Linked DNA regions of Homo sapiens. The protein of the gene in region 3 purifies or fractionates together with the protein of the main gene of each other region. This does not show direct contact. Each region holds a gene or a part of one and is shown on either strand. Other genes may lie near its edges.

Region 1 (3,500 bases), on a different chromosome or scaffold from region 3:
AGTCAGCTTTATGCCTACGAAAAGTAAGCAATGTGTTTCCATTTTATTTATTCAACATAAACAGTAGTGTTGCAAAGAGAAACACAACTTGGTAATGGACTTAAGTAGTTGGTTAATTATTGTTGTTAGGAACTTAAAGCCATATCCCAGAGTTTTATTTTAAGTCTAGAAATGAATAGAAGCTCTATGAAGGCAGAAACCATGTCTGTCTTCTTTACCTGTATATTCACAGAGCCAAGACTAGCACCCAACACCTAGTTGCTTCTAAGTAAATATTGTAGAATATATGAATAACTACAGAGTGCTTTTGGAGAATATCTGGTTGCCAATTGAAAGCTCTACGATTCAGGTCAATGAAATTGGTTAAGCCATATTTCATGTATTTTTCTGACATAATTGGCAACAGTAGGGAAAAAATTCCCTGTAAGTGGGGAAAACTCTAATATTTCCCCAATAACTCTTTCTACTTTAGGATTGTCATTTTTTTTTGCTATTCTAGATTAATTTACAGTTAATCATATAAATCAATAAAGTTCAATAAAAATATATATTTTTCTTTGATGAACCATTTCCAGCCATGCTTTCAGTTGGCAAACTCTTTTCTTATTATATTAAGCATCTCCTATTGCTTAATAGCGCATAATATTGAAAAATCTTTTGAAGAGACAAATGACTTCAGATATCTAAAGATATTGACAGATACTCTACGTTCCTTTTCAATTTCCTTTCAGAATGTACATTTCATTCAACTTTTCAATTAAAAATTTTAATATAAATATTTCCCTAACGAAAAATATGGCTGGTGGATGTAGACAGGGCTTCTTTTGTAACTTCCAAGAACAAGGCATCTTGGTTTACAAGATTGGTTCTACAGGCCTCAAGACCCATAGGATTCACAATATGAGTTATGTGCTATTCGTTAGACAGTATCAAGGGATGCAATACATTTTCTGCACATTTTTTGACGCATTATTTAAAATCAGAAAGAATTTTAAAAAGGCTTATCTAAAGTGCCTAGCCATATTCACCCTCAAAATGGTATAATCAAATAATGGCATTGACCTTAGAATATCTGAGTATTTGTTGACTATTAATATATATGGTACATTATATATTTTTGGTGGATGTATTGATGATTACAAGGTGCAAGGTCTCCACATAGAATACTGACCATAAAGCACTTACTGTTGGGTGTAATGTATGTTACTGTATCGTGTTACTCTGTGTCGAGATGTCATGGGGGATGTGGAGCCAACGGTTTGGCCTATGGGAAGGTCTGGACTCATCATTTGCATCACTTGAATTTCTGGCCCTACTAAAATATTGCCGCTCATCACAGGTCCCATACAACCCTCAGTCGTGCTACTATTGCTCATGTCAGGCACACCAGGACTAGCCAGTACTCTCTCAGCATAGATTACATTGTTGTAATCTGCTAACTCAGCAGGTACACAAATATTCCCTTGAATATCATAGACAGGTGCCATTACTGCTTCGGTTACTACAACATTGGGTGCAAGCTGAGGATCAAAAATAATTGTAGTGGGTTGCACACATGGATCAGCATTACCGTAAGTCTCAGTCACAATAATATCCCCATGGACCACGGGTTCAGATGCTGCCATTTCTTCTTGGAATTCAACTTCTGAGGGAGTCAATCCTGAAGATTCATTAACAAAGTAATTAGGTCCGAGCAAAGGGAGGTCAGTACTGATTGGTATACAAGCCTGGTGTGAAGGAAATGGTTCAATTTCTGTGTTTAAGCAGATCTCAGCAAGAGTCCTAAATTTTGGATCTAAAGTTTCCATGCAGCTTTCATCTAAGTCATCCACAATCCAACTGCAACAACCAATAGAGCCTACGGGAGACCCGACTCCCTCGTGGTCATAAATGAGCAAGCAGTCATTGGCTGGTCGACCTTCATCTTCATCTGCATAAGCATACGCTTTCTAAAATTAAAAGGAAATACAGAATTAGAAATTTCTTTTTCCCTAAAATAAGGAAGAATAACAGCAATCCCTCAGAGAGACTTCTGAGTTAAGTTGTTACGGAATAAACTGAATAATGGTATCAATCACTCATTAAAATAATTGATACTATCCATGCACATTCTGTGATAGCATTTGTAACTACCAATTTTAAGATATAGTTTACAATTGCAACAACATCTTCAGCATTTGTTTGGTAAAGAATCATGGTGAAATTCATGTATGAACAGATGGAGAATAAAGCAGGCCGACTGAAATATGAGATAAAATTCTAGTTCTATTTTAGTTCTTTTAAAATGTGTAATAAATTATTGTTAACTATAGCAATCCTGTTGTGCTACCAAATACTAGATCTTCTTCATTCTAACAGTATTTTTGCACCTATTAACCATCCCACTGTTTCCCCTCCCTACTACCCTTGTCAGCCTCTAGTAACCATCATTCTACTCTCTATCTCCATGAGTTCGGTTTTTCCTTTTAGCTTCCACAGATGAGTGAGAACATGTCAAATTAGTCTTTCTGTGCCTGGCATATTTCACTTAACAGTGTCCTCCAGTTCCATCCATGTTGTTGCAAAATGACAAAATTTCATTTTTTATGGCTGAATAATATTCCATTGGGTATATGAATCACATTTTAGAAGTCCAATCATCAGTTGATGGACACAGGTTGATTCCATGTATTGGCTACGTGACTAGTGCTGCAATAAACATGGGGGTGCATATATTTCTTTGATATACTGATTTCCTTTCTTTTGGATATATACCCAGCAGTGCTATTGCTGGACCCCTTTTCGTAGTGAAGGTCAGTTGGTGGATAAGTCACTGGACTGAGAATAGGAGAGCTATCTTCTAGGTCTTAATCTAGCACGAGTTGTGGTGATGCTGCGTTCCTGAGTTTTAACTCCTTTCGTTCCCAATTCTTTTTATTTTCTCTTTTCTGTTGGAGGCTCCGGGAGAACATGAAGGACATCAAAAACAGAGGTCATAAATGCACCTTTTTTCCCCTTGATGAGCATTTTCCTGCTTTGCTACTGCTGTGGGAAACAAGGTGAGGAATCAAGGAAACAAAAGATAGAAAAATGGAAAAGGGAAGTGGAGAATGATGAGGGGTGTGGCCTTGTTCACGGTACTAAGATGCGCTATGGCAGTTGAATATGAAATCCTGTGGCAAATTAGCATTTTGTGTTTTAAGGAGACGTGAAATACTTTTTATTCAGGTTTGGGATAGGGTTGAGAATAACAGCATATTTCCGAAGAGGCCTACTACCATTGTGAGTATTTTACTATTATTATTATTCAATCTCAAGACGATTTTATGTGTGACTGTGAGGGCATTACCTCCGAGAAGTAGCTGTCCAAGAAAGCCATGTTGATGTCTGCGTCAGCGTAGTCCCGCAGGGTTCCCATGGTAGAGCTCCTCTTCCTTGCGGCCCCTGAGGCTCCTGCGGCCCCTGCGGCCATGAGGCCAACGGCTGTCCCCATACCTGTGTTGAGCTCCACTCCCGATACA
Region 2 (3,500 bases), on a different chromosome or scaffold from region 3:
TTGTAAAGTTCTGATACCAAGGGTTTTCCTCTTTATTTTACCCTGGAGAGTCACCATAACTGCCAGCTTGTAGAACTTAAAAGTTGTCCCAGGAAAACATAGACCTGGATAAACTTTTACAGCACCGTTAAGACCAGCAAACCTTTTAACGGTTTTTACTATTTTAGGTAAATGAAACCGATTCCAGCCCTTCTGTTGTGGGCATAATGCATTTCCTTTCTCTGTTTTTCACCATATCAAATGACAGCAGATATTAATTTCACCTGTCATATTTAAGAAAAGCCCCAAAATTGTAAAATTGGGGACACAGATTCACACTTCCCTGTACTGAATAAGGCACTGACTTCCACAGTTTTCTCCTCTCTCCTCCCATCTTAGTGTTTCCAAAGTAATTTTTTTTTTTTTAAGACAAGGTCTTGCTCTGTTGCACACATTGGAGTGCAGTGGCGTGATTATGGTTCACTCCAATCTCTGCCTCCCAGGCTCAAGTGATCCTCTCACCTCAGCCTCCCGAACAGCTGGTACTACAGGCATGTGTCACCAAGCCTGGCTAATTTTTGCTTTTTTTTTTTTTTTTAATTGATGGGGTTTCAACCATGTTGCCTATGTTGAGTTTTCTCAAACTTCTGGGCTCAAGTGATCCACTTGCCTCAGCCTCCCAGTGTTGTGATTACAGGCATGAGCCACTATGCCTGGCCCCAAAGCAATATTAATGGAAATAAAAATAACAGTTTATTTTCATAAATTAAAACACCCTCCTTAAATCTTGCCTTCCCCTCCCCCCAAATTACTAAATCACTATTTATATGTAGAAAAAGGTAGACTTATACGCCTTTAGGTCACAGTATATGGGCCAAACTTAAGGCCAGTTTTTTATTATGAATCTGGAGTGAAGGTTTGATTTCACCAGAGTTACTCTGCCATCTTCACGGCTATTCTTTGCTTTGCATTCCAGACTATAACCCAGATGTGGATACAATCATATGAACATCTATTCTATCATCTTTCCTTCCCACATCCTTCATAATCACTCTTTTTCTGGGGAAATTGGAATTGTTCAGTGGGCTCTATAGAGATGAAGTGGGCAGAACGAATGATTCCATTGAATTTCAATCAAAAGTTACATGAGAAGAAATACGATTTGATATTCTGACTTCACATGTACCTTCTTTACGTCTAACACTTAGAATGGGGTCAATAACTCCTCTACATATGAAGACTAAGACACAAGGAAAGATGTGGGGTGGGAAATATGAAAATAAAAATAAAAAGAAGCTGGACATGGTGATACATGCCTTTAGACCCAGCTATTATACTTGGGAGGCTGAGGTAGGAGGATCACTTGAGCCCAGGGTGGTTGAGGCTGCAGTGAGCCACTACACTTCAGCCTGGGTGACAGAGTGAGACCCTATCTCAAAAATAACAACAACAAAAGCCAAAAGAGAGCTGTGATAAGAGGAGAAAGAAGCAAAGGAAGAGGAGAACTGGAGACAGTAATAGAGCACTACTAAGCAACTTTCTTAGCTGTTCTAAGTAAACAAACAAAAAAAAATAGTCTCCATGTGACCTTAGGATAGCTCTAGAACCTCTGTCCTTTGGTGGGACTATAAAAATTGAACTACATATTGTAAAATTCACAATATATTGTAAAGATACATAACCCTAACTACTACATATCACAGTTTGAGGGAAAAAATCAGATTCTTACCCAATAACTGGATGTTTGAAGCCAAGCTTCTTGGTGGCTTCTTCTATTTCTTTTTCTAGCCAAGGCTGTGGGCGGATCAAGTATTTGACAAACTGAGACACCCACCACACTGCAGGGTCACCATGCACTCGTACAAGTCGATCTGCGAGGTCTTCTGGTACAGCCAAGGGTAAATATGGAGGACGGGGATGAAGACTGTCTACAATGGGAAGCTCGACCACTTGAACATTTTTGTCCTTCACTTCACCTGACAATATTGAAACATATAATCATTACCACATGGTATTCCTTATACATCCACCATTCAACAAGAACTTATTCTGAGTGCTTTCATCCTCACAGCAACTCTAAAGAAGTATAATCTTCACTTTACAAAGGAAGTTAAATAACTTGCTCGAAATACCAGAGCAAAAGTGACGGAGGTGAATTTCACATGCAGGTTAGTCTATCTCTCAAGTCTCTGGTCTTTTCTAAAAGTTTCTATCATAACATGCTATCATACCAACACCTCATGGTATGCAGAACTCAAAGTATCTAATCAAAGAATGACAGTAGACACAGCCAGCTAGCAAAGTTCTATTTTTTGTTGTTGTTTTGGAATTAGAAAATAAAGTGTTCTCGAAACTTCTAGCTTTTCATTACAGCAAAATTGCTCTTGCATTACTTTCATGACAGAACACAATGACTCTGGAAACACCTGAAGATTATAATTATAAGCCAATCATCTACATCTTTTAAAGAAAAAAATTAGATAATTCTAAAATCTTTTTTTTTTTTAATCTATTGGAGGGAGATGAAGCAAGATGGCTGAATAGAAGCCTCAACCAATCGCTGCCCCCACCACAGGAACACCAAATTTAACAACTATCTACACAAAAAAGCACCTTCACAAGAACCAAAAATCAGGTAAGTGATCACAGTACCTGATTTTAACTTCATATTGCTGAAAGAGACACTGAAGAGAGTAGGAAAGACAGTTTTCGATTGTCTACTACCCCTTCCACCCCCATGCAGTGGCCGTGTGGTGCAAAGAATCTGTGTGCTTGGGGGAGGGGGAGCACAGTGATTGTGGGACTTTGCACTGGAACTCAGTGTTACCATGTCACAGCAGAAAGCAACACCAGGCCAACTGGCAAGCAACACCCGGGCCATTAGCAAAGAACTCAGCCAATGCCCATGGAGGGAGAACTTAGATGTGCCCTAGCCAGAGGGGAAATGTCCATCCCAGCGGTTGGAGCCTGAGTTTCAACAAGCCGCACCACTATAGGCTGAAGTGTCCTGGGGCCCTAAATGAACTTGAAAGGCAGTCTAGGCCACAAGAACTGTAATTTCTAGGCAAGTTTTAGTGCTGTGCTGGGTTCGAGAGTCATTGGACCTAGGGGGCACGTAACCTAGTGAGCCACCAGCTGAGGTGGCTAAGGCAGTGCTTATGCCACCCTTTCCCTAATCTAAGGCAGTGCAGTTCACAGCTCCAAAAGAGACTCCTTCCTTCCACTTGAGCAGTAGAGAGGGAAGAGTAAAGAGGACTTTATCTTGCAACTTGGATAACAGCTCAGCCACAGTGGAACAGAGCACCAAGTGGGCTCTTGGGGTTCCTGATTCCAGACCTTGGCTCTTGTATGGCACTCCTGGACCTGCCTGGGCCAGAAGGGAGCCCAGTGCCCTGAAGGGCAAGTCCCAGGCCTGGCAACATTCACCACAAGCTGACTGAAGAGCCCTTGGGCCTTAAGTGAACATGAACCGTAGCCTGGCAATAATCCCTGTGGGCTTGTAGTGGTGGTGGCCATAGGGA
Region 3 (2,484 bases):
CTACTGTAGACTTTACAAACATGGCACATTTAAAGTAGGCCACACTAAATTCATTTAACAATTTTCTTTCTTCAGTAATTAACCTTAACTCACCGTAACTTAACTTTACAAACTTTCAAACTTTGACTCTTTTGTCAAAGTTTTTTGACACTTAGCTTAAATTTAAAACACAAACATCTTGTAAAACTGCACAAAAATATCTTTATATCCTTATTCTGTAAGTTTTTTCCTATTTTAAACTTTATTTTTCTACTTTTTAAACTTTGTTAAAAACTTAAGACACAAACACACACATTAGCCTAGGCCCACAGGGTCAGGATCATCAGTATCACTGTCTTCTATCACCACATCTTGTCTCACTGGAAGGTCTTCAGGAGAAATAGCATGAATGGAGCTGTCATCTCCTATGATAACAATGCTTTCTTCTGGAATACCTCCTGAAGGACCTGCCCAAGGCTCTATTAAACATTTTTTTAATAAGTAGGAATAGAACACTCTAATTATAAAAAGTAAATACACAAACCGGTGTCATTTATTGTCATTATCAGTATTACATACTGTACATAACTGAATGTGCTGTACTTTTATACAACTGGCAGTGTAGTAGGTTTGTTTACACCAGCATCTCCACAGACACGTGAGTAATGCACTAGGCTATGACATTAAAACGGCTAAAACATCATGAGGCAATAGATTTTCTGCTCCATTATAATTTTATGGGACCACTATTGTATATGTCATTATGCAGTACATAACTGTAATCTTCTGCAAAACCAGTCAAATCTAACCATGCCACAAAAATAACTACCACCATCTGTCTTAAAGAACGTGACTCCTATATGGATGGAGATTAACAAGGGCATAGATCGATTCTATAGAATATTTCATTTAATTGATTTTATTATAACTGGATTAGGTCTGAGCCCTGGGAAACAGACATCACCTTGTTATACAGAATCACACATTATAGTTTTAACTGAAGTTGTTTTTCATATAGGACAATCATAAATATGAGTATTACAAGAGCTGACTACATACTTTCAAGTTTATATTTCCTGACAAAGGATATGACCTTTTTCCATCCTGTAATTCAGAGAAAAAGAACCACTTGCCCTATATAAACTCTAAAAAGAAAACTGCATAAACCCAGGAACAGGGGGCAAGGAGTGCTCCCCTTTGACCTACTATTAGCAGGTCCAACAAATGATATATCACCACGTCTATGAAGAAATTTCTTTCTATAAAAGCACAAAATTTAAATCGGATTTGACTTTACATATTAGGGCTTTCATCTTGATGAGAAACTCATAACAGCAGCAGCTCAAACTGATTGTTAAAAGGAAAAAACACAGGGCAGATTAATAATGCAACTTGGATCTTCACTCTTCTCTTTCCAATTCAAATGCTGGAATATGACACTCTTTTTATAATATTCTGCCCATGAGGTTCTCTCCCTTCTTTTCTGCCTTCAGAGTCCTTTCCAAAAGGAAATTACTGCCTTGCATTCTACATTATTCCTAATTTCCAGGTGGAAAAATGAGACAAATTAAGTGACTTCTAAAAACACTAGGAACTGTATTTTTTAAAAACAAGACAATACTTCAGATTTTCTTGCTTTAATTCTTCTCTATATTACCACAGTAAAATATTTAACAAAGTCCAAGAGATTACTGATATGCAATAATGACCTATGACTTTACATTAATGGAGTGATGTATCAATAATAAACTGATCAGTTAAGTAACTGGAAAATGTTTGCATGTAAAGAATGATTCACTATCCTTTTTATCTTGTATTGAAATCGTCAAAACATTTAAAAACACAAAGTTGAAGTAATTTTAAATAATAATAACTGTGAAATACTGCAACATCTTGAAGTACTTTATAAATGACCAAAAACAGGTAAAATTTTGTTCAGTATAACTTCAGTGAAGAAGTTTTTTGACACAGAACTACATATATTTTTAAATTGGTAATCCACATAAGATATACACAAAACCTTCAAGTGACTACATTGTTCAATAAATAAAACTCTACATTGTTTTGTTTTTACAGCCTAGTGAGCTTATAACTCAGTAACACCCTTTTAAGAAATTCTAGTCTACAGAATGACATGTCCAAATTGTTTGGTCCTATTAATTTCTTTAGCAAAAACCTCCAATTCCTTTATATTTAATTCCTCCACATATCATCTTTGAAGGGCCTGACTAATAAATCACAAGTGTAACCCTCCAGTCTCCAGTCTGGGTTTTTCATGAGTTTCAGTTCAGTGTAAGCCAGCACACTGACCTCCCCATGAATTTTCCACAGTACCTACTTTATTTAACACTTTCCACAAAGTATCCTGTCCTTCTAGGCTTTTTGTAGAATGTGAAGTTAATAATGGCATGTGGTGTTCCTTAGCATGACCTGCCAAAAAGTGATGATCTCCTTGGAAGAAAAGCCATGGGCTGCAATCACACGTCTCAGTTGACAGACATCCAA
Region 4 (3,957 bases), on a different chromosome or scaffold from region 3:
ACTGGCTGTTCCCCGCTGCCTGGGGCTGCTCAACCTCTCCAGTCTCATAGAGACCACCCTGACCAGGGTCCAGTGGTCTCTCTCTAGCCCCTGTTCTATTTCACTTCCAACAGAGTGAGTATAACTCCCTGATCCTAATTGTTGATCGTAACCTACCATCCTCTACACACACTGTGTAGGAATTTACTGTGCAGTTCCACAGCCACCAGCCACATGTGCCACAGGACACTTGAAATGGGGCCAGTCCAAAATGATTCCTGGGCTAAGTGTAAAAAATACACAGGGAATTTCAAAGATTTACAAAACCAAAAAAAAAAAACACACATAAACGATCTCATTAATAATTGTTCCCGTTAGCTGAAATAATATTGTGGCTATATTAGGTTAAATAAATATTTTAAACATTACTTTCACCCATTTATTCTCATCTTTTAAAATGCATCTACTAGAAATTTTCAAATGCTTGTGGGTTCATGTCACATCTCTGTGGGCAGCAGCTCTGCAATGTCACCTCTATGGCTCATCATCCAGGTTCCGTCTTCAAGCCCTAGACCTCCTGGCATGGGCAGTAACTGGTGATAGGTTTGTTTATTGAATAATGAGTTATGAAAACAGAAGCCAGTGACCTTTTCCAAAAAGGTTAATTCCCTTAAATTTGGCAAAGAAATTCTCCATATTAGGGTGTGGACAGGGTCTTCTGGAACCTTCTGAAATAACCTCTCTGTTCCAGAGATTCAGAGACCGTGACCAAGTGCTCCTGGAAGCCTCTGATATCTGAAGACCCCGGGAGGCCAAGCCCTGTATTTTTCCCCTTTCTGAGCAAACAGGAAGTCACATTGCTTTCACAGTCAAAGGACCAGTGTCACCTCTGTGGAGACCTGGGTGACTCAAGCTTGGGAGCACTGGGGAAGAGAGGCATGGCTCAGGGAGGCTGCAGTGAGGACTGGAGTGGGGAGGAGGGGGAGATGGAGGAGGAGGCCTGGGAGGGGCAGGGGGAACTTAGGCAGGGAGGGAGCTTGTAGTGGTGGGGGAGTGAAAAGAGAGATGGAGAAAGAGGGGATGGGCAGAAAGAGGAGGAGGAGTCAGGGGCAGGGCATGGAGGTGGGTGGGGCTGGGCTGCCAAAGCAGGATAAATGCACACCTGCCTGCTGGTCTGGGCTCCCTGCCTCGGGCTCTCACCCTCCTCTCCTGCAGCTCCAGCTTTGTGCTCTGCCTCTGAGGAGACCATGGCCCGGCCTCTGTGTACCCTGCTACTCCTGATGGCTACCCTGGCTGGGGCTCTGGCCTCGAGCTCCAAGGAGGAGAATAGGATAATCCCAGGTGGCATCTATGATGCAGACCTCAATGATGAGTGGGTACAGCGTGCCCTTCACTTCGCCATCAGCGAGTACAACAAGGCCACCGAAGATGAGTACTACAGACGCCCGCTGCAGGTGCTGCGAGCCAGGGAGCAGGTGGGTGCTGCCTCCACCCGAGGGGTCCTGAGCCCTAGCCTGGTTTGTTGCCGGACCCCCAAGAGCATTCCAAGCAAATCAACACTGACACATTCATGATCTAATGCTCAGATTCATTCAGCTTTCTCTGACTCTCCGCTGATGCCCTTCATGCCTAAGCATGCTCCCGGTCCATGCACTGCAGACAGTTAAAGGAAGTGCTGCAGCTTCCTTTAACCTGCAGCAGCTGCTGTGTCTGTACCATGACCGTGGCATTTCCCAGCGTCCAGCAGGTGTGGATGGAGACTGTGCTGACTCTGGGTGGGCTTGATGCTGCTCAGGATGAGATCCAGGCGGTGAGGCTCATTCTCCTCCCTGAGTCCTCTCCTCAGGGGCCACATGGGAACCTGGCTCCCTGTTCTGCAGAGCCCTTCTTCCTTCCCCAAGTCATGCCCTTGGGCACAGCCCCTTAGGGCTAGTGGCCTTCACCCTCAGGCAGGCTGACCCACCCCTGCAGGCCAGGATGGCTGAGTCCCTGCTGGGGTGGAGCACGCCTGGCCCTGCCTCTACGAGCTGATGCAGAGTTAGACCTCAGCCAGATGAGGACAGCAGTCACCCAGCAGAGCAGAGGAGGGGTTAGGTCCAGAGTGAGCTTCAGCAGGGCAACTGGGCCCAGCTTGACCTGCATCCCATGGCAGAGCAGCAAATAGTGACACAGCCTTTAGAGCTCCTCCACCTTCTAGAAATTCAAAGGAATCCAGACCAGTCCCGTTTCTCCTCCTACAGCTGTCAGCTGGAGCCCTCACCCTGCACAGGAGGTGCACTCCCTGGTGCCATGGTCCCCGCTGGCCTGCATCTCCCTCTTAAGCATGACAGTAACTTGGAGTGAAGCACAGGGCATTGCAGACCATCAGACCTGGAAGCCTATTTTATACATGGGTAAACTGATACTCGAGGGATCTCAGCAGTTCCTCCTGGTTCCAAAGAGTCCCTCATCCCAGGTTTCTCCACAGCTCTGCCACGTAGTGTCTGGGAGAGGCCCTGTGCAGGGAAAGGGTTCAATTATAATCTGCAATTGTAAGACACTCAGGTGTGCTGCTGACTTGAGAAACGTATCTTGAACCTCACACTTGAAATGGTGGCATCTGGGCGGCCCCATTGACCCAAAATATCTGTGTGTGTGAAGCATCTCATTTCCTACTCTAAGTGAAGTAATAAATCTAGGTTAAATGGAGGGAATAAGATTTTCGTGAGTTAGCTGAAATTTTGTCATCAGACAGCCTTCCTAGAAAAGAGTCAGTGTTCCCTCACCCCTGAGCCACAGGTAGCAGAATTCAATGAATCCTCTTACCCAGCACAGAGAAAACGATGTTTAAGAGCGGGCATGAGGCTCAGCACCCTGCCAGCTGACAGGAAGAGGGGGCTTGTGTGCCTTGTGTTGACATGTGGGCAGCTCACGAAGCCCCCAAGCAAGTCCAGTGACTCAGCCACAGTGAAGTGCCTGTGAGTGCATGAACTGATGGGGGCGCTGTCCGTGCTTCCTGTTTTCTCCTGTGTGCAGACCTTTGGGGGGGTGAATTACTTCTTCGACGTAGAGGTGGGCCGCACCATATGTACCAAGTCCCAGCCCAACTTGGACACCTGTGCCTTCCATGAACAGCCAGAACTGCAGAAGGTACGTTCCTGATGCGGGTCCCGGGCCAGTCATGCACTGCAGAGGGGTGCGTATGTGTCAGCCTCTGTCCTACCCATGTTTGGACGGTGTGTGTGTGCAGGTGGGTATGTGGGGAGCCGTGTATGCATGGATGTGTACGTGTTCATGTACTTATGGGGGGGTGTGCATGTAGGTGTGCATGTGGAAAGGTGCACGTGTGTACACACATGTGCCAGTGTGTGCGGGTAGGTGTATGGAAGCATGTGTGCCTGTGTGTGGGTGTGTGGCGGAAGTATGGGGGTTTGTACATAGATCCATGGGGATGAGGGGTCCAAGTGAGTTTACGTAGTTGCCTATGTGTGTGCAGATGGGGTGGTGAGGGAGGGGGTGATGTGTTTGATTTGCTAGGAAGGCTTTAGCTTGGGAATGGTTACTAGAAGGTCAACTGCCTGCTTTGGGGTGTTGCCTGTTGGACAGGAAGAATCACCTGCGGGGCTGGGTGCTGGGCAGGGAGAAGGGGATCTGTCTAATCCCAGCCTCAGGCACCTGCATGCAGCCAAAGCCACAATCAGATTAGTGGGACCTAGAGGCCTGTTAGCTGGGAAGCCCTGGACCTGCCCGGCTCACCCAACACCAGCCTCTCCAAGAACCTGCTGGTTCTTGTGAGGTCTCCACTCAGGGGAGAGCGGCACTCCCCTTGTTGCCCTTGACCCATGCCCCAGCTCTTTGAGGGGGAGTTGCCCTGCCCTGGGTTCTTCCCTCTGGCCCCTCTTAGTGCTGGCCTGGGTGCTGGAGGTGGAAGGAGCTGGGGGAACTGAGCCACCTCCCCATGTCCTGCACCCTTGGGGCTCCCGAGGCCTTGCCCAGGCT

Evidence for each region.
Region 1: the proteins of B3GALNT1 (region 3) and DSG4 purify together in Homo sapiens (affinity purification with mass spectrometry; 3 studies listed by BioGRID and IntAct, with this or other methods). This does not show direct contact.
Region 2: the proteins of B3GALNT1 (region 3) and FUT8 purify together in Homo sapiens (affinity purification with mass spectrometry; 3 studies listed by BioGRID and IntAct, with this or other methods). This does not show direct contact.
Region 4: the proteins of B3GALNT1 (region 3) and CST4 purify together in Homo sapiens (affinity purification with mass spectrometry; 3 studies listed by BioGRID and IntAct, with this or other methods). This does not show direct contact.

Annotation. Positions count from the first base shown.
Region 1 is NC_000018.10:31,411,277-31,414,776, reverse strand, and holds part of DSG4 (desmoglein-4 isoform 2 preproprotein), read right to left. Parts: coding exon 3,329-3,500; intron 1,950-3,328; coding exon 1,182-1,949; 3' UTR 1-1,181.
Region 2 is NC_000014.9:65,720,230-65,723,729, reverse strand, and holds part of FUT8 (alpha-(1,6)-fucosyltransferase), read right to left. Parts: intron 1,956-3,500; coding exon 1,709-1,955; intron 1-1,708. UniProt on the Homo sapiens protein: Catalyzes the addition of fucose in alpha 1-6 linkage to the first GlcNAc residue, next to the peptide chains in N-glycans.
Region 3 is NC_000003.12:161,083,383-161,085,866, forward strand, and holds the end of B3GALNT1 (UDP-GalNAc:beta-1,3-N-acetylgalactosaminyltransferase 1), read right to left. Parts: coding exon 2,377-2,484; 3' UTR 501-2,376; downstream 1-500. UniProt on the Homo sapiens protein: Transfers N-acetylgalactosamine onto globotriaosylceramide. Plays a critical role in preimplantation stage embryonic development.
Region 4 is NC_000020.11:23,686,239-23,690,195, reverse strand, and holds the start of CST4 (cystatin-S precursor), read left to right. Parts: upstream 1-1,157; 5' UTR 1,158-1,226; coding exon 1,227-1,454; intron 1,455-2,994; coding exon 2,995-3,108; intron 3,109-3,957. UniProt on the Homo sapiens protein: This protein strongly inhibits papain and ficin, partially inhibits stem bromelain and bovine cathepsin C, but does not inhibit porcine cathepsin B or clostripain. Papain is inhibited non-competitively.